Homo sapiens: one gene and its partners. The protein of the gene in region 3 purifies or fractionates together with the protein of the main gene of each other region. This does not show direct contact. Each region holds a gene or a part of one and is shown on either strand. Other genes may lie near its edges.

Region 1 (3,500 bases), on a different chromosome or scaffold from region 3:
GGACTGATATTTCACTCGTGTCACTTTTGTTTTGGAGTGTATGTGTAGATTTGTAAATTTGAGATTGATATTTATGTTTGATAGAAGTGTGGTGTGTTGCATAAAATGACAGATTTATGGAGGCTGAAAATATTAATAAAACTTAATTCCATTTTTTTTTTGCAATATTTAGGTTTTCCAGTTGGATGTTATAAAATTTTTATGACATTTTACACTGCTGTTATTACTCAAGGGGCCGTATCCACCTCTTAGGCCTTTTTGGGATTGGGTGGTTTTGGTTGCATGCCTTTTCGGAGGTGCCCTTTCCTGAATGGGAGGGAGGTTTTTGCAGGTTCTCTGTGGATATGTAAAGTAGTGCCGCACGCTTGCTGTGTGTGCTTGCTTGAGGCTGAGGAATCCCAAACCCTGTTCCCTGTCGTGTCCGGGAGAGGCACCAGGCAAAACTGTTCCTCTACCAAGAATATATTTCTGTATCATAGATGTAGAACTATTATAAATATCTTTTCTCTAGCTTGGAGGCTATTTGAATGAGACTCAATGGCCCTTTTGGTTTAATTGGGTAATTGAGTGAATTAATTCTGATCTAAAAACTTGGTGTACTTTAGCAACTTTTTCTTCAGGAAATTTGGTAAAGATAAAATGACTTAGGTATCAGTCATTACCTGAGTGTCCTAAGTATTCATTTGTTTTTCCTTATACTGACATCTGAATGAATGGAATGATAGACATATACTATATAGTTTTAATTAGCAATTCACTTTGAGTGAGTGAATTTTTTCAGAGTAGAATATGTGTTTCCACTGTAAGTTTTCACTAAATATGTTCTATTTTCAAAATCTTTGACTTGGAGTAATTCTAAGAAAATTCTTTCCTTACATTTAGTTATTTGTTTTTCTTTTTGAGACAGGGTCTCACTTTGCCACCCAGGTTGGAGTGCAGTGGCGCGATCTTGGCTCACTGTGGCCTTGACCTCCCAGATTCAAGTGATTCTCCTGCCTCAGCCCCGCAAGCAGCTGGGACTACAGGTGCACGCCATCACACCTGGCTAATTTTTGTATTTTTCGTAGAGATGGGGTTTCGCCATGTTGCCCAGGCTGGTCTCGAACTCCTGACCTCAAGTGATCCACCCTCCTCGGCCTCCCAAAGTGCTGGGATTACAGATGTGAACCATCCTGCCAGGCAAGATTTACTTACTTAAATAGGATCCAGTAGGCAGTTTTCAAACCCACATCTGTATGGATCAATGCCAAGAATATTAGAAGGCTACTGAGTTTGACAGATGAACTAATGATGAAATTAACTTGTTTCTTGGATGAGATTTATTACCAGGCACCAGACTAAAGCCCTAAAATCTTAAGCCTATCTGGTTTATGAATAGCTACTCTTATTTCCATTATTAAAATCAGGTAGATGGCAGCAGAATCTGGAGGAGATTCACCCTCTGTTGACCATCTTCTGTAAGGTGCACTTCTCAGTGTCTTCCTGGGCCTTGATGAATGATGAGCTGGAGAACTAGACCAGAAGCCATTCCTTATCAGGTGACTCTGGAAGGGAAGCCATATTTGATGAAATCCAGAAGAAATCCTGGACCATAATGCTACATTTTTTCTTTTTTTGTAATGGGATGCTAAAAAATTAAATATATGGTTTTTTTTTTAAATAGAGGTAAGCTATACGTACATAACATACAACTTACCATTTGAACCATTTTTAGGCATACATTCCAGTGGCATTAAGTACATTGTCATTGTTGTGTGGCTGTCACCATCATCATCTATCCCCAGAACTTTTCCTTCTCAAACTGAAATAAAAATATTTTTCTCTTTCTTTTAAAATTGTTAGCTGCTAATGTGTATTGTAAGTAAAATAATCTTGTTTTTGTAACCATTAATCTTATCACTTCATAGTTTGTGAGTAAATTCTTCCGCAGACATTCCATCAGGATGCTAATGGTTTTTTTGTTTGTTTGTTTTTGTTTTTTATTAGTACATTACTTCCTCTCAATTCTAACTTTGGGGTAATCCTCATAGAGTTTGAGGATCTCTTTGGAGATGTGTATTACAAAGGTTAGTAGTTTCACTGCCAGTTATGTTATTAAAATTTTGAAAAGCAGCTTTTTGGAACCTTTCTAAAGTTTAAAGGTTGAGGGTATTTGTTGAGAGAAACCTGGGACTTGGTTAGATAATAGGGTGTGGAAATGAACTGTTACCATTCTCACTTTTCCCTTGCTTTTCTTCCCTCACCTTTTGCATTTGTAGTCTCTTAAAAATTATTAATTTTATTTTCCCACTATTAGTGAAAATCATTTATAGTGATATTTTTTTCTATTCTTTCTGTGTTTGAAGTTTCTGGGCATCTCACCCCTACCAACCCAGAGCAAACCCAGAGTCTAGGTGGTGCCATGTCCTTTTCCATAGTGTTCTCTGCCACCAAATTTGTGCCTCCCCCTCATGTTTTTACTTTTTAGTCCTCTGCAAAACTTCAGAAATTCTTTGTATGTGGAAAAATTACTAAATTAAGATGATTGACCTTTTAGAATTACATTTTAAAGGCAGCTGTGAAGGGAGACTTCTAGATCCTGCCTAGTCTCATGAACAGGCGTCTTTGGTTTGTGTAAGGTATTGGAATTGTACTGGAATTGCTGCTGATGCTGATAGGTAGTCACATCTTTGTAAGATCAGTTATGTACTTTAACACCAGCTTCCACAGAGAGGAAATGAACTGTTACTTAAGAGCTTGTACTGGGAAGCAATAGTTATTTCTTTAAGGTGTAAACATTTAGCATTTGTGTATGCAGTGAGGTATATGTTAGATAAATATCTACTCCAGACAGTCAATTGGCAAATATTTATTGAGCTCCCACTTTCTTAATCAGCCCTGTGCCAGAGACAGACAATAGCTGGGGTCTGGGGATTGCTGCTGTTGGTGTGCGGATCATGCAGAGATACTGCTAACGCTTGCTCCCTCCATACCTGGATCGTGGTATTGCTGACATCATTGACTTAGAACTGGCTCATTTAAACAAATTGCAGATAGCAACCATGTGGGTCAGCAGTCTATTTGGCCTGCTTTTTTTTTTTTTTTTTCCGGTGGGGCAGTATATTTTGGCAAAACAAAATCTGGTCAACAACAATTGTAGGTTGTTGTGATATAGTTGATGTGATCTAGTGACTCTTTTCCATTTCTACCAATCAGTTACTGGCTTTGTGCCAGAGCGAAATATAGATTCACTACCGAGAATAATAACTAAAAGAAGGAAAATATAATCACTTTCAAATTTATATAGAATGGTCCTTTTTCTTTTTCTCAGTTTTCTACATTACATAGATTCTTGGAAAAAAAGTTAAAACAGTCTGTTCAGATTTAGGAAGATACTTGGATTGCTGGGGTATTTTTGGTAACTGTTTAGATAATGTATGCTGGCTGAGGAGTAAATTCAGCTACTGCTTCTGGGTCCTGAAATAAACCTTTCAGAAAGCGAGGCATTGATGATTAGTGGA
Region 2 (3,500 bases), on a different chromosome or scaffold from region 3:
GAACACCCTCTGGTTTATTCAGACATGCAGCGGGCCCCTCACGTCACCCTTTGCTTGCAATGCCTACCCTGGGCCCCCGCTCAGAACAGCCTCAGCCCCGGCCCTGGAGCCCCCTGGCCTGTATCCTTCTTCTGCTCCGTCTCTGTCCTCCTGTTGAGGCCCTGCCCTGCCTGGCTTGCCTGGGCCCCCGCCCGCAGCTCTCCCTGCTGCCCATGGCTCCGTGAAGTCTGCCTGGACTTCAGGTGGATGTGTCTGAGGGGGTGGGAAGTGGCAGTGGCCAGCATGCCCTTGGAGGCCCCAAGCCCCGGCCCTGGCCTCCCCAACCCCCCCTTTTTTTTTTTGAGACGGAGTCCTGCTCTCGCCCAGGCTGGAGTGTAGTGGCGTGATCTCGGCTCAGTGCAAGCTCCGCCTCCCGGGTTCATGCCATTCTCCTGCCTCAGCCTCCCGAGCAGCTGGGACTACAGGCGTCTGCCACCACGCCTGGCTAATTTTTTGTATTTTTTAATAGAGACGGGGTTTCACCGTGTTAGCCAGGATGGTCTCGATCTCCTGACCTCGTGATCCGCCCGCCTCGGCCTCCCAAAGTGCTGGGATTACAGGTGTGAGCCACTACGCCTGGCCAGACCTGGCCCCTTCTTGCCTCACCTCTTGCCCTATGCTCCGGCCATCCCACAGTGGTACCAGCTGCTGCCAGCCCTGCCCGGCTTCTCCAGGGCCACCCCCCTCCCTGTGTGCTTGGTAGGCACAGCTCACAGGTGGCTCCTTCTAAGACATTCCCTCCATCAGCAGCCCTGGGACAAGGTGCTTCTGAGGCCCTGGACCAAGAAGGACGAAGAGAGGACTCGAGCCTCATAGCCTAGCTAGCCCCACATGGCTGAAGCTCCCTGTGGTGGGAGGGATAGGAGGGGCAGGGCAGGGCAGACATGGTGTCGCTCACAGCCACACCGTGCTACTCCGGTTCGGCACCTCCCACTGACGGATCAGGGTCCCTAGGGAGTGGGAGATGAAGGGGAGCCCCGGAAGGCACCCGGTCCCGTGCATTCACTTTTCACAAGGAGAAACGGGGACCAGTATGGTAAGCGTGCTCAGCTTGGAGCCCACTGTGGGGCATTACCTTCACGAGGGGGGCCATCAGCCCAGCAGGGAGATCGAAGTAGGGCACATTGGGGACCAGGCTGGGGTCATCGTGGTTGATGTGGGGTGGGCCCTGTCGCCGCATGTGTGGGGGCTGCCCGTTGAAGCCATGGGGGGGAGGGCCGAAGTCAGGGTGCTGGGGTCCAGCCCAAGGCGGGTGCTCGTTGATGCCAGGATGAGGCATGCGGTGGCCAGGGTGGTGGTGAGGGGGCCCCATTTCTGCAAAACAGAGACTTGCCTCAGGACCACAGGCCAGTCAGGATCTCCCAGGCGACAAGTGCTGGAGGGGAGGGGCTCAGTGAAGGGCCAGGAGACGAACCCCTCCTGGGAGCCTGTCCAGCATCTTCTCTCACTGCTTAAGACCAGGCAGCAAGGCACCGAGGAGCCAGGCTCCGAGGGGCCTGTCCCGCACCCATAGGCACAGCCGAGGGAGCTTGAGGCTGAGAGAAGAGAACCCCAAAACCCCAAAACTGCACGGTGAGGGCTAAGTTGTGACCCTCCGAATCCATACGCTGAGGTCCCAGCCCCCAGTAGCTCAGGACGGAACTGTATTTGGAGACAGAGCCTTCAAAGACACAAATGAGTTAAAATGAAGCCATAGTGGCCCGAATCCAACGTGACTGTTGCCGTTATAATAAGAGATTAGGACACAGACATGTAGAGAGAAGACGGTCACCTATGAGCCAAGGAGACAGGCCTCCAAGACACTAACCTGAACCCGCCACACCTCCACCTTGGACCTCCAGCCCCCAGATCCTTAAGACAATACATTCCAGCTGTTGAAGCCGTCCAGGCTGTGGGACTTATCATGTCAGCCCAAGCCAAAAAGTAAAAGCAATAAATGTGCCAAGCGGTCTTCAAGCTGCATTTATAATCAGAAATGTATTTAAAGAGAGAAGGCTGGGCATGGTGGCTCACGCCTGTAATCTCAGCACTTTGGGAGGCCAAGGCGGGTAGATCACTTGAGGCCCAGAGTTTGAGACCAGCCTGGCCAACATGGCGAAACCCCATCTACTAAAAATACAAAAATTAGCTGGGCATAGTGACTGATGCCTGTAATCCCAGCTACTGAGGAGGCCAAGGTGGAAGAATCACTTGAACCCAAGAGGAGGCTGCAGTGAGCCGAGACTGTGCCACTGCACTCCAGCCTGCGTGACAGTGAGGCTCAGTCTCAAAAAAACAACAAACAACAACAACAAAAGGCCAAGCGAGGTGGCTCACACCTTTCATCCCGGCACTTTGGGAGGCCGAGGCGGGCGGATCACCTGAGGTCAGGAGTTCGAGACCAGCCTGGGCAACATGGTGAAACCCTGTCTCTACTAAAGACACAAAAAATTAGCCAGGCATGGTGGCGCACACCTGTAATCCCAGCTACTCGGGAGGCTGAGGCAGGAGAATCATCTGAATCTGGGAGGCGGAGGTTGCAGTGAGCTGAGATTGTGCCATTGCACTCCAGCCTGGGCAACAGGGTGAGACTCTGTCTCAAAAAAAAAAAAAAGTACTAAAAGATTAGAAATAAAATCAATAACAAAGATACTAGGCATGGTGGCTCACATCTGTAGACCCAGCTACTCTAGAGGCTGAGGTGGGATGACTGCTTGAGCTCAGGAGTTTGAAAGTAGCCTGGCCAACATAGCAAGACCCCATCTCTATTTAAAATAAAATAAAATTTTTTTAAAAAAGAAAAGTAGTTTTTTGTTTTTTTTTTTTGAGACAGCGGTCTGTCGCCCAGGGTGGAGTACAGTGGTGCGATCACAGCTCACCGCAACCTCAGCCTTCTGAGCAGCTAGGACCATAGGCGCCCGACACCACGCCAAGTATTGATTTTTTAAACGAACTAATACAACGGGAAAACTGATGCAAAAAACAAGCAGCAGCAGTAAAAAGAACGAGGCCCCGCCCTGCCCTCGCCACGCCCACCCACGGCAGGAACCTTTTCCTACTGGCTCTGCCTCATCTGCAGCCAGCCGGGCCTCATCAGGGCGGCAAAACTGAGTCTGTGCCCCCACTTCCTGAGAACCCAGGCCGGGCTCCTCGGACGTCCCATGACCCTGTGTCTGTCACTGTGCACTCAGGAGCATGGCAGGGCCACAAGCAGCGCCACCAGCCTGCTCGGCAGGCGAGCCGTGGATGCCTCCGCCAGGCCCTACCCAGGCGCCCGTACACTCACCGGCAGGGAAGTCCCCCTGGGGGTAGTCGAAGCGGTGGGGATAGGGCGGCCGCTCGAAGGGGTGCCGTGGCGGGAAGTCGTCCTGCATGAAGCGGGGCGGGAAGCGGTTGAAGTTGTGGGGGTGCGGAGGCTGGTTGAACTGCGGGTGCTGCTGGTGGGGCGGGAAGGGCCCCCGGAAGTGTGGGGGCCGCTGCAT
Region 3 (3,500 bases):
ACCAGTGCTGTGGGCCCTGGAGAGTCAGAGGGTCAGCTCTGGGAATTAGATTCGCGTTCTAGGCCGAGACCCAGGAGCCAGGGGAGCTGGGGCCACTTACCTTCCCCGTGCCTCGGAAGCTGAGTGTGAAGCTCTGCTCTTCTTTCTGTCGTGGCTGCGGCTGGATTTCCTCACACATCCCATTGCACGGCCTGCCTCACAGCTGCAAGTGCACCTTCTCCTGGGACTTAGGGGGTCAGGGCTGGGGGACAATCCCCCACACCCCCACCCAGGGCGAAGGTGACAAGACTTTAAGGGATTTCACCCCATTCACAGACAGGCATGCATTGCCCAGTCCCTGGTTAGTGGTCAGCAGTGGGGCCCCGCCAGGCTCTGAGGGCTGAGGTCTGGTGGGAAGCCTCAAGTGAGTTTGCTGCAACTGATCTTTTGCTGCTTGACCGTTCCTCTCTGTCTCAGCCATGTTTGACCGTGAGAACAAGGCCGGCGTGAACTTCAGCGAGTTCACGGGTGTGTGGAAGTACATCACGGACTGGCAGAACGTCTTCCGCACGTACGACCGGGACAACTCCGGGATGATCGATAAGAACGAGCTGAAGCAGGCCCTCTCAGGTTTCGGTAACTCACTCACTCTGGCTTGTGTAGCGTGTTTCATTTTGGAACCTTGGAGCCGTTGAAGTTCTTTAAACCTTGTTGGACTTAACTGATTGTCTAACCAGGCTACGTAAAGTTTTTGTTGACGTCATGCAGGTTCATATTTGATATTGCTCATGTCGGAAGGCGATCCTCGACATGGATACGTTTATTCAGGTTTTTATCCAAAATGAGATAAGGGCTATGCAAGCCGTTCATCTTTTCTGAAGTGGAATGATGTCGTGAGCAAAACTGAGAATGTGGCTTTTGAAATCATTTAAAAGTGGATCCATGAAAATACCGTGGGGCAGGGCAGCTTATATTTCATGATAGATCAAAGCACGTTGAAAAGGCAACAGTCACCTAAGAAACAGCTGTCAGTCACCAGGTCCAAACCGTGCGCCTCAGAAGGGGCGTTAGGCAGAACGCGTGCCCATTCTCAGGTGTGCTCGGCGTGTGTGTGCTCGGCGTGTGTGTGCTCGGCGTGTGTGTGCACACGTGTGCCGTGCGCCTCAGAAGGGGCGTTAGGCAGAACGCGTGCCCATTCTCAGGTGTGCTCGGCGTGTGTGTGCTCGGCGTGTGTGTGCACACGTGTGCCGTGCGCCTCAGAAGGGGCGTTAGGCAGAACGCGTGCCCATTCTCAGGTGCGCTCAGCGTGTGTGTGCTTGACGCGTGTGCACACACACATGTGACGGTGTGCCGTGGGTCTAGGAGTGTTCACAGTGCCTGTCCAGAGTGCGTCCATAGGGCCTGTCCACGGGGCTTCCCGTGCTGCTCTCAGGGCTGAGAGGAAGCAGGGGTTTTATTTACAGAGGAACAACGGGCATGTTTGGGGCCAGCCTGAGGCTGTTGGTGGCTGCACCGAGATTCTAATCCATGCGGATCTCATCTGGCCCCTGTTGTGAAGCCGCTTCCGTGATTTGCTTAAAAGGCTCCTTAGAAACAGTGAGGAAAATTCGATTCTACTTGAGTACCTCCGAGATCCCTGGAGTCTCACTTATCTAAGCACGTCGCCTCTCCTCGTGTTTCCTCCCAGCATGCACTTTGTGGCTGCCTTTCTTTCTCTTTTCTTTCTCACCTTACGAGCTTGTCCACAGGGCCGGGGGTGGACACTGGGTCTCCTCAAGAAGCAGTTCTGAGCTGACCAGCTGCGAGCCAGGATTTGGGCTGGATGGCTCTGAATTGGTACTTGGAATGCAGCTGACCTTGCTGTGCCCTTGGGTGGGGGAACTGGAGGGAACGCTGGCCGGCTCCTCTTCCCTGGGGCAGGTACGGAAGGGCTGGGAGGGAAGGATGCCACCCTCCACAGAGAGTGGTCCTGGGGGCCAGGGAGGCCAGTGCTGCCGATTGCGGCCAGGGCCACGTGGACTTCAGGACCGGCCTGAAGTTATTTTTAGATAAGCGACCTCTGGCGCCACGGACATCTTTTCCTAACCTTGTCAGGCCCTGGAGCTCCCTTTGTCCATGCCAGTGACCATCGGTCCTCAGAATGTGCAGTGGAAGTTGCTGTGGACAGTGCTCCCTGGTCTCTGAGGCCCTCTTCGTCCTGGTCTGGCCAAGGACTTCCCAGAAAACTGTGCTTAGCTGTGGCGGGAGGCACGGCCGGTCACGCAGCCTTCCTCCCGCCCTGGAGTGGGCAGGCCTGCTTGTGTTGTGCAGCGGCAGAACCCTTCCTGACTTCCAGGTTTTTCCTGGGGTGCGGCATCCCATCGCAGCATTTTCTCTGGTTACCCTCACGAGTTTCCTCCTGCGTTTGGTTCTTGATCTCCAGGGCCATCTCCCACGTCTTCCTTGGAAAGGGGCATTGTCATCCTTTTTGTATTTTGATGATTTTGAAAGATTTCCCATAGTAACTGTTAGGAAGTTGGCCTCAGAAGCAAAAATTCTTCTTTTGTCTTGGCCCCTGTGAACAAGTGTTCTGCTCTCAGATGAAGCAGGGAGGCTGCACTGGAGCTTGGTGGCCAGCAGGAGGGAATCACCAGGGTGGTGAAGCCTGCGAGATTTCTCCCCGGGTGTCTCTGATGGGGCCACATGGTGGATTTCATAATCCACCGATTCGTTTTTTTAAGCCTTTATTGTTAACATCAACTGTGTGCCATGCTCAGAGACCTGAAGTGAAAAGGTGAGGAAGGCGTGCTCACATTCCAGCACTCACCACCCGGCACCGGGACAGCTGACTCAGCACGTGCCGTTTAGGTTGCTGTAAACAGCCGGTGAGATTCTCCCCTCTGGTGGGCAGTGCGTGTCTGACAAAGGCAGTCGGGCGGAGAACAGTTCCTCCGCTGTGGTCCTTTGCCACTGTACCAGGCCCCCAAGAGCTGGGGGGAGCCCCAGGGAGCCTCAGCCTGTTGAGTGGGGGCAGCTGGTTTGTCCTCCGAGGTGGAAGAGGTGATTTCTGAGGAGGTCATGCTCCGCTTGGCTCGTTCACAGCATTTCAGAGAGTCCGAAAGAGGAGAAAGACCTTGGCAAGGGGTGTGTCAGGGGTGGGCCCAGGGACGCTGGTGGCCTCATGTGGACTGACTTTCATGAACAGAAACTCAGAAACAGTTGCTTCTGGATTTTGGCTTCTCAGATAAACATTCTTTTTGTAGTTCGTTTGTTCATCCCTCATTTTGCTGTCTGACTTTGCCTTTCTTTTCCCTTCACTATTACTGATGACCAAGGAAACTGGAAGTTAATTCCAGAGGCAGTGGGGTTGCTCCTGTTGTCTGTGCAGACTGGAGTTCCTCTGCCTCTGTCAGCATCTCCTCTGTCCTTCCCCAGCCTTGGCAGGAGACCAGTAATGACCTCTGTCCCCGTGCACCCCAGTGATGGCCGCCGTCCCCGTGCACCCCAGTGATGGCCGCCGTCCCCGTGCACACCAGTGAGGG
Region 4 (2,958 bases), on a different chromosome or scaffold from region 3:
TAAGCTTGTGTGTATAAACCACTGGGTACTCAACAGGTGGTGGTAGTTGTTACTGGAAGATCTGCTGAGAAACAGTAGTGGCAATTGACTAAGTGCTTCCCAAGTACAGGTTGGATCATTACATCATATAATCTCCATATAGAACCTAGGGGTAGGTCCCACTAGCCCCATTTTAAAGAGAAAGAAACTGAGGCTCAAGATGAAATTTCTGGGCCAAGGAAAAAGGACTTGACCCCAGGTCTGCCTAGTCCCAGAGCTATAGTGCCACCCATTCCTCACAACAAACCTTGGAAGGGACTTCTACTAACACCTTTATGAGGAAAATGAGGCCCAGAGACGGGAAGCTATTTGTCCAAGCTCACAGAAACAGGATGTTGTGGGGCTGGGGGTTTGGATCTGTGCCTGCCCAACTCTTGTTCTAAGAAATATTCTAGTTAGCTGGGCCTGGGAACCATCCATTGGTCTCCTGGCAGCTGATTCCAGGCCCGGCATGAGGAAAGTGCTTGGGAAATGGCTGTGCGATAACTGAAAACCTCTCTGGTTTACAGGAGCCTGTGCATACCAGAGCCAGGGCACTGGCTTTCCAAGAATGGGAACTGAGCCTGGAGCTGCTCAGGATTGAAGCTCTCTGTGCAGAGGGCAAGTCCTCAGCAACCTTAGTGCCCTGGTTATTATGTCCAAAAGACAAAGAGGTCAGCCAGCCTGGGCAAGGGGTGACTCCAGTCAAGTGCTTTCTTGGGGATTTAGTGAGGTTAGTGACACTAGCCAAGAATAATGTACTTGCTGGAGGGATCAGTGCTTACAGCCCATCCCCTTGAGGGTGGTGGGAGAAGAGCAGGTTCTGGGAAGGTCTACATTTACTCCTGGGTTTGGAGGGGATCTGGGAATGTGTAGGGTCCATCTGAGTCAAGATCACGGCCAGGGAGAAAGAAGGGCAGGCTAGAGGTTAGAGTGAAGACCAGTAGCTGGGGCATGTGTTGATTTCCCCAGATCCGCCTCCACCTAACTTGCTCAGGTTCAAAAGCACACGTGCGATCACTACATACAAACACACACTCATTCTCTCACCTGTGGAGGGCTGTAGCTGCTGACGGTGGGGGTGCTGGTATTGGCGCTTGAGCCAGGGATGTTGCTGTTCTTATTGTAGGTGCTGGCCCCTGGGGGGTTCCGAGCAGGGCTGTAGCTGGGTGGTGGCGGTGGCTGCTGGGGTGGTGGCTGTGGTGGCGGAGGCTGCTGTGGTGGCGGCTGTTGCTGGGGAGCCCGGTTGTAGCTGCCTCTGTTGTTGGAGTTGTTGTTATCCCGGTTGTTGTTACCCCAGCGGTTCTGGCTATAGCCACCACCTCCGCTGCGGTTGAAACCTGTGTTGGAGAAATCCAGATGAAAGGCGCCATCATTCCCAAATGGCAACCCCAGGGAACTGGGTTGTCTTGGTGACTACTGTGAGCCGGCATGGCCAGGCGCAGAGCAAGAACTCAAGGTGAACAACAAAGCATGTCCTCTGGGATTCTCTAGACCCCCGGGCATACTCCCCTGTCCCAGCCCTTATGACAGGTTTGTCTCATTCACTGGACTGCAAGAATGGTGAGGCAGAGACCAAGGCAGTCCTGGGTTTCTGTGTCCCAGCATCTCAATAGCTGTTGAATATGCAGGAAGGAGATGCTCAAGGAGAGGAAGCTGGCAGGGTGCGGTGGCTCACATCTGTAATCCTAGCACTCTGGGAGGCTAAGGCGGGTGGACCACGTGAGGTCAGGAGTTCAAGACCAGCCTGACCAACATGGAGAAACCCCATCTCTACTAAAAATACAAAATTAGCCGGGCGTGGTGGTGCTTGCCTACAATCCCAGCTACTCAGGAGACTGAGGCGAGAGAATCGCTTGAATGCCGGGAGGCAGAGGTTGCAGTGAGCCGAGATTACACCATTGCACTCTAGCCTGGGCAACAAGAGCAAAACTCCGTCTCAAAAAAAAAAAAAAAAAAAATGAGAGGAAGCTAAGCACTGGTGACAGCCATGAACGAGTCACATCTAGTCCTCTTCAGACCTGGCCAAAGATGTAGCCCCCATTTCCAATAGATTTTGATCTAGATCCTATTTCCAAGGAGCTCATGGTCAGATGGGGGAAGGTTCACAAAAATGACAGCAATGTGACAGAATGTGCACTGTGATATGCAAATGGGCAAAGGGCTTCATAACCAGCGTCCAGGGAGTGGGAAAGTGGGAGCGTTTCTGAGGTCTCCGTGTCTGACTTGTTTCAAGTTTTCTACCAGAGTATAACTCACAGCTGGAGCTCAGAAAACTTCAGTTGCTGATTGAATAAGCAGTCAAAGCCCAGCCCCAACCTGGGAACAGAAAGTGGAGAGTGCTGTGTGTGAGATGTCTCACCTCCTCGGTAGTTGCCTCCTCCACCGCTGCCTCCCCCTCGGTTCTGGAAGCCGCCACGGTTGCCTCCAGGGGGTCCTCGGTTTTCATAGCGCTGGAAGCCACCACCACCCCCGCGGCCCCGGAAGCCACCACCACCTCGGTTGTCAAAGCGCTTTTCAGGGGGTGGCCCAGCCTTGCGGCCTTCCTCGTTGTACTGCCTCACTAGCTTGTCCGCTTCCTCCCGCTGCAGCTCAATGAACAGAACCTCATCCAGGAAGTCCCCAACATCTGGCAACGTGAAGTTGGCTAGGAGGAAGGAAGTGCCCCAAAGAGAACAAGAAGAAGAGGTCAGTACCTTCTGAAGTCTGGTCCCCTCCACCCAGAAGAGTGGCCTTCCAGAAGGGAGAAGGTGAAGAAAACTGGAATAGTGAATAAGAAAGACATAGACAGAAGGGCGGGCGCGGTGGCTCACGCCTGTAATCCCAGCACTTTGGGAGGCCGAGGCGGGTGGATCACCTGAGGTCAGGAGTTCAAGACCAGCCTGGCCAACATGGCAAAACCCCATCTCTACTAAAAATACAAAAATTAGCCAGGCATGG
Region 5 (3,500 bases), about 72 Mb from region 3:
ATCTAGCTTACATGTTTATAGCAATTACAGAAACAATTCAGACCCATCCCCATAGCAGGTTGGGGCCTGCCTGTGGCCGATAGCAGATTTCTACATGGAGGGACTGAGGGATGTTCTGATAAGAAGAGTCCCCACATCTGTTTAAAACTGTCTTTCTGAGGTGGTGGCTTGTCTGTCTCATGTGTACTGTGAAGGGCCACGTGTCCTTCTGCACTTAATTTTCCTTGGCCCTGAGGTTCAGAGAAAGCTCTGTTTGTACTTTTCATCACTGGCAAGAACTGTAAGCACACTGCCCAACTTCATCTGAGTCACCTGGAGGCTTCTTTAAAAACACTGATCAGAAGGCATAATAATGTTCACTCTCCAGCCACTGGGGTGGGGAGAATGTAAAACTGTGAAAAGGAACATTTTTGAAGCCACAGCTGTCAGAAGGTGTGGCGTCATCTGCATCTTGAAACACATACCAGGATGGGATCCCCCAGGCAGGCAGCTCCTTTCTCAGAGGCTTCAGAGCTCACTCACAGTTGGTTCATCTTTACCACTTCAAAATGCAAGCTTTGGCTGTGTCTTCTTCCAAGGCCGCTAGAGTTCACGCATCTTGCCTCATTCATCTCGGTATCCATTGCACCTGCACATAGTAAAGGCCTAGTAAGCCGCTGTTCAATTGCATTGAAATTCCAAAGCTAGGGCTACAATTCTCACTCTGCCTACTGTCCTGAAGTTGTTGTTTGATCACTATAATGTCAGAATGTTTTGCAAGATTATGTCCCCATGTGCATGTTGTACCCGGAGGCAGGTGGGCATTTGTCTAGTAGCTCTGGGGTCACACACATTATTAGCATCTTGCCTCAGGGAAGAGAGAAAGCTGCAGAAGGCTGGAAGTGGCCCAATGACATGGTGAGCAGTTAAGTGGCCTGCTTATAGCTCATTTGCATGCACATGGGCACTTTCCACATTCCTGTGCAGTTCTGTAGTTATTTTCTAGTGGTTGGTTTCTACCCAAGTCATTGGTTTGTCTTTTTTGCCGAAAAACCAGACAAAGGAAATATGTAAAGAAAAGTGTCATTGCCAAGATTTTCAATAAGGAAGTAACACGATTTGGCATATTTGCATCTCAAATAATATCCCTCCTTCCCCTTCTTTAAATAAGGTTGTTATGAATATTGCTGCTTAATCATTTTTACTAGATTATGGAAGCAAAATTTTAGCACCATGGACTGTGCACGTGTCAGATTTTGCCACTAATTACAGAAAAAAAAATTTGCCCTAACTGAAGAACTCGAGTTCCGTGGAAGGGCAGATTCCCCAGGGTTTATACTTATTGGGGTAGGTTCTGGAGGACACATATTTTGATTATACTCAGGCAGGTATCATTATGGTCAGAGACCATGTCATATTCTCTTCTGCCACCCACAAAGAAAGGATGCCACAGCTAAAGTGAATTGAAAACCACTGGACTGGACCAGTGGTTATCAGCCTTTTGGAGCTAGGATTGCCCATTGTTGCCTTGGAAAAATGGTTGAGTAACTGAATAACAAACGGACCTTGAAGACCACTTGTTGTCCAGCTCTTTTCCTTTTATCCAGTCCTTGAAACATACTAGTTAACTCCAGGGAAACCAAAACCACAATTTGGGACAAACAAAAATGATACTTTTTAAAAAATATAAGAACAGCTAAAAATAAATGGACTGAAAAAATAGAACTATCAGTACACTTTGAGCTTCAGGTTTTGGAGTCTTAATCACTGGAGATCAATTAACAAAACCAGAACTAACAGACGGTACAATTGTCTGGCTAACCCCACTCCTCCCTGAAATCCAGGGATGGTGAAATCATCATCTCCTGGGGACATTTTTCAGTCTCTGTGTTGGAAAGTTTTTCCTTATTTGTCTCATTGTATCTTCAAGGAAGTGATGTGATCCCTTTCCCACCTACAGTGTCTTAGTTACCCTTCACCAACACTGCCGATTTTTTCCCTTTCAGATTAATCATCTTCAGTTTTACCCACAGTTCTTCATAACCCTGCTCACTGTCCTTCAAACTTGTTCCTCTGTCAAGAAAGGGAGGTGAAGGCCAGGTGCTATGGCCCATGCCTGTAATCCCAGTACTTTGGGAGGCCAGAGTGGGAGGATCACGTGCGGCTAGGAGTTCTAGGTTGCACTCAGTTATAATCTGCACTGCACTCCAACCTGGGCAACAGAGCAAGATTCTGTCTCTTAAAAAAAAAAAAACTATACTTAAAACATTAAAAAAATAAAATAAAAAGAAGAGGAGATGGGATGGGTATGGGGGGAATTCAGGAGTTTAGTCCTGGTCATGTTTTAGTGCCTTGAAATCAGACAGTTGGATTTATGAGAACAGAGCTCAGGGAACTCAGAGTCGGGCTGGAGATACTAATTTGAAATCCATTAGCATATTAGAGGTATTTGAAGCCCAGAAGACACATGATGTGACCTAGAGTGAGAAACATTTTAAGAAGAGAAAGGGCCCAGGTCCAGTGTTGACAGGTCATAAGGCCAAGAGGAAGGAGCCAGTAAGGGAGACTTGTTTCAGGTTTTTGCTTGTTGGTCTAATTTCTCTAAAATGTCATGACTCAAACTGGACACCCTATTCAGGAGTCATTTGACCAGGTTAGGATTGTGAGAGTTGATAATGTCTATAGTTTTCAATACCATCTTCTATTAAAGAAGTCTAAAAGTGACTTTTGACCATCACCATACACCATTAATGGTCAATGGGGAAGTCAATGGGGAAGAGATGCAGGCTTTGAGGGGCTCGACAATTTATATAATTTAAGGGCTCTTTTTTAAGAAAAATGAAACAATTATTAATATACAGTTAAGTACAGGGCCATGCCAATGAGGTACCTTGAAGTTTAAGCTTCTTTGGCTTCATGATAAATCCATTTGACTGTCAACTAAAATCCCTGAGTCTTTTCCATGGATATTATTGTTAAGCCACATCTCCCAATCCTGTAGTTTACCCTGCTGGTTTATTGAACCTTACATTTATCCCTTTAGAATGCCATCCTGTTAGAATTGACTTAGCCACCATCATCCCAATGTCAAGAGCTTTTATAAATACCTTAATTCTGCCATTCCACATTTTGCTGTGTCTCCCATTTTCATACCATGCACAAATATGATATGCATGCCTTCGCCATTTTTATCCAAGTGAATACAGGCCAGAAAATGAGACTTGAGGCAGCCCATCATAGACCTCCCTCCAGGTTGACATTAAGCAGCACTATTTATATGGCTGGCTGGAAATCCACCTAATTCTACTATCACACTGTTCAGGGGTCCTATTAAATGTCTGGCTAAAACCCAGAGATACACTGTCTACTGTATTTCCTCATCAGCCAAGCAAGTAACCTAATCAAAAAGGAAATGTAGTTCGTAGGCCATGGTTTAGAAATTCAAATCTTGTTTCATTAATCTCATCTGCAGTAAAACCATTTATTTCTTACATCTTCCTTCCTCTTCCAGTATGCCTGCA
Region 6 (3,500 bases), on a different chromosome or scaffold from region 3:
CAATTAAAGGAAAATATAGACTTAATGAATGTAAAATAAAGAATCTCAACAGAAAAACAGAAACTATAAAAACCCAATGGAAATTCTAGAGCTGAAAGCACAATTAAACAATTCACTAGAAAGGTTCCACAGCATATTAGAAATCACAGCGACCTTGAAGAGTTCAACAGAAATCACCCAACCTGAAGAACAGAGAGAAGACTGAAGAAAAATGAACCTTAATGACCCATGAGACAGTATCAAGCTCTCCAATGTATGTGTTATTAGAATCCGAAAAGAGAAAAAGCAGGAAAAAATAATGAAGAAATTATAACCAAAAGTTAAACAGAATAAAACAATATAGGTACTGCTTTAAGGTTAAAAACTTATTTATATAAAAACCCACTGTATACTCAAGCAATTTAACAAGAAAATCTACATTTAATTTTCAATTTCTCTAAGATGAGGAGATAAGACAAATCAAATATAATTCGAATACTGCAACTAATCAAATTATAAAATAGTTCAGATTTTTAAAAACTTTCTAAATTTTACTTTCAAAAATTTACTTGAACCCAACAGTGCTTATTCTTTAAGGGGGAGGGTGCTACTCTTGGGGAGAGGACATAAGAAAGCTTTCTGAAGTGCTGGAAATCATCTACATCTTAATCTAGTTAGTCTTTTACATAAGTGTACACATATGTAAAAATTTGTTAAGCAGAACCCTTAAGATTTGTGCACTTCACCATATCCAAGTTATTCTTCAATTAAAGAAAGAAGGAAAGGGAAGAACGGAAAGATGAAGGAAACGAAGGGTGTAAAGGAGTTGGAAACCAACTTACCTGAAACCTGATCATCTGTTAAGCCAAACGCTGACATAACATTTTTATTGATTTCATCTTGGTTTTTTAAAGGATCAAAAGCAGACATACTTGCTGCCATAACCTGAGTAGACTGTTTTCCAGAAGAATCAGAAGCAGACTTTTCTTCCCTACCATCCACAGTATCTGTAAAAATAGAGGAATAAACAAAAACTTGTTTCCTTTTTATCTATATTCAGTAAGGCCTAAAAGTACAAGGGAAATAATGCAGGTGTATAATGATAGTCTGGAATGTTAAGCATGTCGGAATATAGGATTACAGATCATTTTAATTCCTTTATTTTTTTTATATTTTTCCTTCTAGTAACAGGGAGAAGAGGGCAAAAAGAAACAGAAGATGAACAAAAGCTTTCCAAAAAAATTATTTACCTCCTTTTGTAAGAAACATTAGATGAAAAAAATACAAGCTCCTTGATAAAGAGAAACATTTTACTTTTTTTGGTTTTTTTGGAGCCCAATAACCTATATCCTAGTATCAGATACCCACTGGGCACTCTGGAAATAATAATTATAGGAACTAAGGCTTTATTTTATAAAAAGAAACTGAACTAAGGTTATAATCTCAAATTTTACATTTTATTTCTACTGTCTACTGGTCCACTATTAAATTACATGGAAATCAAGCCAACCATAATTAATTCATAATCTTCCATAAATAGCACATTAAAAACATTTTTGAATTTGCTACCTTCTATTTTAATATGTATTACTTATTAAAATACTTATTAAAATGCTTACAGATGAAATGATGTATATGGGATCTGCATCAAAATAATACAGGAGGGGAGCCGGGTGCAACAGCTCATGCCTGTAATTCCAGCACTTTGAGAGGCCGAGGTGGGTAGATCACTTGAGGTCAGGAGCTCGAGACCAGCCTGGCAAAACCCAATCTCTACCAAAAATACAAAAATTAGCTAGGCACAGTGATGCATGCCTGTAATCCCAGCTACTCAGGAGGCTGAGTCACGAGAATCACTTGAACCCAGGAGGCAAAGTTTGTAGTGAGCTGAGATTGTACTCCACTCTGGGTAACAGGAGGGGCGGAAATGTGTATAGTGTAATTATATGATACTATAAGTTGGTAACTGTTGAAACTGGATGTGGGTTTCTGGGATTCATTATAATGTCTACTTTCTTATATACTTAAACTTTTCTATAATAAAATGTTTAAAACAACAACAGAAAAACAAAATGTCAAATATTATGAGCAGGTTAAATTTAAAATCATGCTTTTCTTCTCAGGATACTAAGATATTCCACAGGCATTTATACTACTGTCTTGTGAAAGAAAAAGAGTTCAAGAATTTTAACATACATTTTACAAATAGGAATCCAAGTCCAAGATACAAAAGACATCAAAAGAAACAAACAAAAAACACGAACAAGTAAACAAAAAGACTGTTGCTAACCATTTACTCAATTAAGGGACAATGATTATCACTTTTGTTACCAAGCAAGTAAATGAACATCAGTTCTTAGATCACCCCTGTAATCAATACAAAATGTATCTTCTGAAAAAAATGTTAAGTGCTAAACCGAATATAAGTACCCACAGCACACACTGGCTGGCAGCTCATTCATTCCTAACATACCATTCCAGGCTACCCTAATATTTTCTAAATGTTTGGAAAAAGAAAACTACTACTAGAAGTATTCCTTTAAAACATGTCTACCAGTTATCTATCTTCCCTACCAACTTCCTTCCTCTAATCCCAAGAGCATACCACGTCAGTCTTACAAGTTGTTTCCCCTCACATCTCACTACCTATGCCTCTTTTCACTTATCACAAACTAAAACCATCAGGAAACATACTATACGTCCTACTACTTGCTCCATTAGCTGCTGGAGATACTGCAACAGGTCAATCTTCTATCTAAGGTAGTTTACACATCATTTGCCTCTTAAAGGAAAACAAGCATCCAAGAACCGCTGTAATAGAGAGCTGAAGACCACAGGTGGCCACATTTCTTGGTGAGGGTAAGCCACAGGTTCTAAATAGCACTGATAGCTGATTGGCAATTTCATTTTGTGGACTAGATTTCAGTTTCTGATGTATGGTTTTCTTGTTGTTTTTGTTTTCTAAAAAAATAAGAACTATCTCTAAAAATATAATGCAGATTGTATTATTCTTATATCATCTTATCATCAGATATGTCAGACAGGACACAATAACTAGAAAATGGCCATACAAGAAAACAACATATGGCATGATTTCCAAAATGCAGAGAAGAAACCAATTTTAACACCTTTTACATTAACATAGGTAAAAAGCTAACAGTATGTATAAAAAATATAGACACAAAGAATAAAGTATAAACAGTAGCAAGAAAGAGGTGAGGAAAAAGTTTCACCTAAAGCAAAAAACTCATAAATCCATTCCTTAGAGTAGAATGTGGGCCACTGTAGCTAATTTCTGAACAGTATTGGCTATACTGGTTAAATTCTCATCTACACTTCTTAATATTCTGCAGATGGTTAAATCCCCTGAAATTATATGCAAATGTTGTGTCAGCATCTATGAATTCTTCTGGAAAAATTGTCTAACTTTTTCATTGATTCTTGATCTAAAATTGGAAATTTTTGTTTGGAGAGGTAGGGCTCAGAATAGGCAACCTTCTTTGACCTGAAATATAAAAGGT
Region 7 (3,500 bases), on a different chromosome or scaffold from region 3:
TTGCCCTCATCCATGTGCCTGGACTTCTGCTGAACGGCTTCCCTGTGTCTGGCCAGATGCAAGCTGTATCTTATCACCATGGGGATGGTATTAAGAGAGGTCCTAGGTTCCCTGGCCCATGGAGGGTGAGGGGTGCTTTCTGAGCCTTGGTCCACAAGGCTGTTGCAAGAGGAGACACGCTTGGTAACATGGCTTGAAAGGAAAATACCAGGAAAATCTGGTTTGTTCTGAAATATTTTGGGGCAATAATGGTGAGCATATGTTTCAGTGCTGTCATTAGCCGAATTAGCAGACATGGAGCTGCCCAGAAAACACATGTGTGAGTGTGACTGTGTGTGTGTGCATGTATGTGTGTGTCATCTGCTACAGCCTGGAGGCCTGCTTTGGGGTGTGGAGACAGATAGAGAGATAGTGGCGGTGGAGTCAATCAGGGAGGGCTGCATGGACCTCGCAGGGTCTCAGAGAGCATGCAGAAAGGACAATTCTAAGTGTCTTTGACCCCATGGTACATGACTAGGAGGAATAAGCCTTCTCTGGTTTTGTCGATGCCTCCCGCAGATACTCTGGGCAGGGATGGAAGCCTAGATGCCTCACCGCAAGGAGCGGCCGAGCGGGTCCTCGCTTCACACACACGGCAGCACCGGCACCGCGGTGAGCCTGCAGGGTGGGCTGGGTCCCTGCCGGGAGTTCCCTCTTTCCCTTCTTCCCCAGTGCCTGTTTACTGGCTGTCCTTCCTTGGGACCATGACACTCCAGGTGGCTGTTGACTGGCTGTAGGATTATGTATTTTTGAAACAAAAATGCTCTTAATTTGATGTGAAATTTACTACATGTATAAAACTCAACGCCTTAGGTGCTGAGGAAGTCACTAATTTAGAGGTGTCTCGTTACTGAGACAAACTTGCAAAAAACCCCTGAATCCCAATTCACAAATTGGTGATTCGTTTGTCAGGGGATATTTCACATCTAACACATAAGCCCACGACCTTTAATTAGAATTTTGCAGTTTGTTTTATGCCCCTGGAGGCTGACACCTTGAAAAATTTTTTTTCTTGATTTCTTATTGCTAATAAGCATCTTTCTTTTTCCCTCTGGTACTTTGAAGAAAATGATGCAAATACACTTAATTACAGTGGTGGCCATAATTTGTCAGCTGAATATATGATCAGGCACGGGCAGAAGTGATCTGATTAGATCTGTGATCACACTCTCAATAAAGGGAGTGCATGGCTGTGTTGTGGAGAAACTCTTGTGTTCCGCTTTGAAACTCTTGTGTTCCGCTTTGTTTCCATCTCTAGGAGGGAGGAAACATGTCCCGGCTGTCTCTCACCCGGTCGCCTGTGTCTCCCCTGGCTGCCCAGGGCATCCCCCTGCCAGCCCAGCTCACCAAGTCCAATGCACCTGTGCACATCGATGTGGGCGGCCACATGTACACCAGCAGCCTGGCCACGCTCACCAAGTACCCTGACTCCAGGTAAGAGTAAGCCCCTTGAAACATCAGGCATGTGTGGGTCAGGGCAGCATCTGTAATCTGCTGCCTAGGGGGTGGGGTCTCTCCCCACTGTCACTCCACCCACCAGGGTCTCCAGGGTGCACAAGCTGACACAGCCTGAGGGAGCTAGGGTTGGGGAGTCCAAGTCTGCCTGTTGAAAGCTGCTATGCACAGAGGCTTGTGACCCTGACTTGGCGGCATTGGTAGTGCAAGGTGGAGCTCCTGACCCACCTGCAGGGGACTAGGGCTTATTCAGAGCCAGCCCAGCCTGAGCCTGCCGGCAGCGGGCAGGGGAGTCTCACGTACCTTCAAGGTTCCTCTGGAGGGAGACTTAGGCCCGGCCCCTGCAGGGGGTCATTTGTGAGTGATACTGAGTAGGTAAGTCTTGGGGGCATGGGGGTGGGTATTTAATCCTATTTTCTATTCCACCCCTGGGAAATTCACAAGGGGAGGGAAGAGGAGCTGTGGTGAGCTGCAGTGTGCCATCTTTGTCATTTTCCGTGGCCACTGCTGGGCCCTAGAGGCTAGCAGCAGGCTTCCCTTGGAGCTGGTGCTGCAGTGACTAGCTAGGAATGAATCACATACCTCATCAGTGGATAAAGGGTCTCTGGCCAGGACCCTGGTTGGGGGCTCACAGGCACCCTCCATGCTGCTGAACTTATAGGCTGCCCAGGCCCTTGGGCCTGCGAGAGGTTTGGGGTGCTGGGTGCTGCCAGCTCTCCTGCTCTTCCTTGCAGGGTGTTTCTCTCCTGGGTGAGGGACCTGCTTTCCCCGTTGGCACGGCAGCAGGGCTGACCCGAGTAGGGTGGGTCTTGAGCAGCTTGCTCAGCCGAGGATGTTTGCTCCTGGCACAGAGAGGCGGTCATCGCTCCCCTGGGGCTGCTGAAGGCTGAGCGTGGGAGGGCCAAGGCTGTGGGCATCACCCCTGTGTTATGCATTTGAAATAACAGGAGGAGTTAATTAATCCCCCAGATACTGAGGGATCATCTCTGGGGAGCATACACGGCAGGCTGCATTGTCACCGGTGTGGTTCCTCAGAGCAGGGAGGATGGTAGTGCGCAGAGGTGGCTTTCCAAGCCTGTTGGGGCTGCAGGGGAGCCTGTGCAGGTGCAGGCATGGTCCCTTGAGGAGGAAAAACTGGAAATGGGTGCAGTGTCTAGTTCCAAATTTGGAGAGTCTAGGGTACAGATGGTGACTGGTGTTCCAGTACCCCAGGTGGACAGAGACTCAGCCTGGGGCCCTGTGGCCTTGGGGCTTGTGGGGTGGGGACAAGAGCCACGGGGCCAGGTCAGCAGTGTTGGCCTGTGTGCTCACTCACAGAGCCCTGTCTAGGATGGGAGATAGATTCTGCTTATTTAATTTCCATTTTGCCTTCTGCGGCATTTCTGAGTTGTTTGAGATAGATCATCCCTTAATCGGTTGACGACGTTTGTGAGTGAAATTCATAAAACCTTTGCCCACAACCCTCTCTGAAGAGTTTCCTGAAATCAGAGAGTTGCCTGTCTGGAGTAATCACAGCCCAGGCCCTGGGGGAGGCGGGTGGGAGAGGCTTCTCATTCTGGGCTCTTGGCTGCTGCCTGAGAGCAGGAGGGCAGGGGGCCATCTCCCCCCACCCAGCCCCACTGTGCTGCTCACCCATTGCTTTGTTCTGCTGTGGGATGTGCTCTCATGGGGAGCTAGGGCCCCTGTGGCCCTGTGATCTGGCACTTGGGACCCTCCTGGTGTGCCCAAGGGGTGGCAGTCTATGTTTATTCTTCCCCAGGGCTGGGGCTCAAGGTGAATCTGTTGTTCTGCCTGGATGGCCTCTGGCTGCTGTGGGGGTGCTCTGTAGGCCTGAAGCTTTGGACTAGAGGCCAGGGATGGCTGACCTGCAGGACAATCAGGGGACAGGAGGCCAGGGGGCCTGAGAAGTGGGTCAGGCAGCTGTGCTGGCAAGAGCCCCTCAGATCTCTCTTGTCCTTCCTGTAGTGGATTATTATAATATAAGCAGTTTTCTACCAATTCTGGAA

The links.
Region 1: the proteins of PDCD6 (region 3) and ARID1B purify together in Homo sapiens (affinity purification with mass spectrometry, with the first as the bait; one large-scale study listed by BioGRID). This does not show direct contact.
Region 2: the proteins of PDCD6 (region 3) and CHERP purify together in Homo sapiens (affinity purification with mass spectrometry, with the first as the bait; one large-scale study listed by BioGRID). This does not show direct contact.
Region 4: the proteins of PDCD6 (region 3) and HNRNPUL1 fractionate together in Homo sapiens (co-fractionation; one large-scale study listed by BioGRID). This does not show direct contact.
Region 5: the proteins of PDCD6 (region 3) and MAP1B purify together in Homo sapiens (affinity purification with mass spectrometry; one large-scale study listed by BioGRID and IntAct). This does not show direct contact.
Region 6: the proteins of PDCD6 (region 3) and TFG purify together in Homo sapiens (affinity purification with mass spectrometry, with the first as the bait; one large-scale study listed by BioGRID). This does not show direct contact.
Region 7: the proteins of PDCD6 (region 3) and KCTD15 purify together in Homo sapiens (affinity purification with mass spectrometry, with the first as the bait; one large-scale study listed by BioGRID). This does not show direct contact.

What each region holds. Positions count from the first base shown.
Region 1 is NC_000006.12:156,783,878-156,787,377, forward strand, and holds part of ARID1B (AT-rich interactive domain-containing protein 1B), read left to right. Parts: intron 1-3,500. UniProt on the Homo sapiens protein: Involved in transcriptional activation and repression of select genes by chromatin remodeling (alteration of DNA-nucleosome topology).
Region 2 is NC_000019.10:16,521,938-16,525,437, forward strand, and holds part of CHERP (calcium homeostasis endoplasmic reticulum protein), read right to left. Parts: coding exon 3,305-3,500; intron 1,354-3,304; coding exon 1,115-1,353; intron 1-1,114. UniProt on the Homo sapiens protein: Involved in calcium homeostasis, growth and proliferation.
Region 3 is NC_000005.10:306,146-309,645, forward strand, and holds part of PDCD6 (programmed cell death protein 6), read left to right. Parts: intron 1-456; coding exon 457-615; intron 616-3,500. UniProt on the Homo sapiens protein: Calcium sensor that plays a key role in processes such as endoplasmic reticulum (ER)-Golgi vesicular transport, endosomal biogenesis or membrane repair.
Region 4 is NC_000019.10:41,302,372-41,305,329, reverse strand, and holds part of HNRNPUL1 (heterogeneous nuclear ribonucleoprotein U-like protein 1), read right to left. Parts: intron 2,666-2,958; coding exon 2,381-2,665; intron 1,359-2,380; coding exon 1,069-1,358; intron 1-1,068.
Region 5 is NC_000005.10:72,187,475-72,190,974, forward strand, and holds part of MAP1B (microtubule-associated protein 1B), read left to right. Parts: intron 1-3,500. UniProt on the Homo sapiens protein: Facilitates tyrosination of alpha-tubulin in neuronal microtubules. Phosphorylated MAP1B is required for proper microtubule dynamics and plays a role in the cytoskeletal changes that accompany neuronal differentiation and neurite extension.
Region 6 is NC_000003.12:100,729,994-100,733,493, reverse strand, and holds part of TFG (protein TFG), read right to left. Parts: intron 987-3,500; coding exon 822-986; intron 1-821. UniProt on the Homo sapiens protein: Plays a role in the normal dynamic function of the endoplasmic reticulum (ER) and its associated microtubules. Required for secretory cargo traffic from the endoplasmic reticulum to the Golgi apparatus.
Region 7 is NC_000019.10:33,799,870-33,803,369, forward strand, and holds part of KCTD15 (BTB/POZ domain-containing protein KCTD15), read left to right. Parts: intron 1-558; 5' UTR 559-585; coding exon 586-651; intron 652-1,297; coding exon 1,298-1,473; intron 1,474-3,500. UniProt on the Homo sapiens protein: During embryonic development, it is involved in neural crest formation. Inhibits AP2 transcriptional activity by interaction with its activation domain.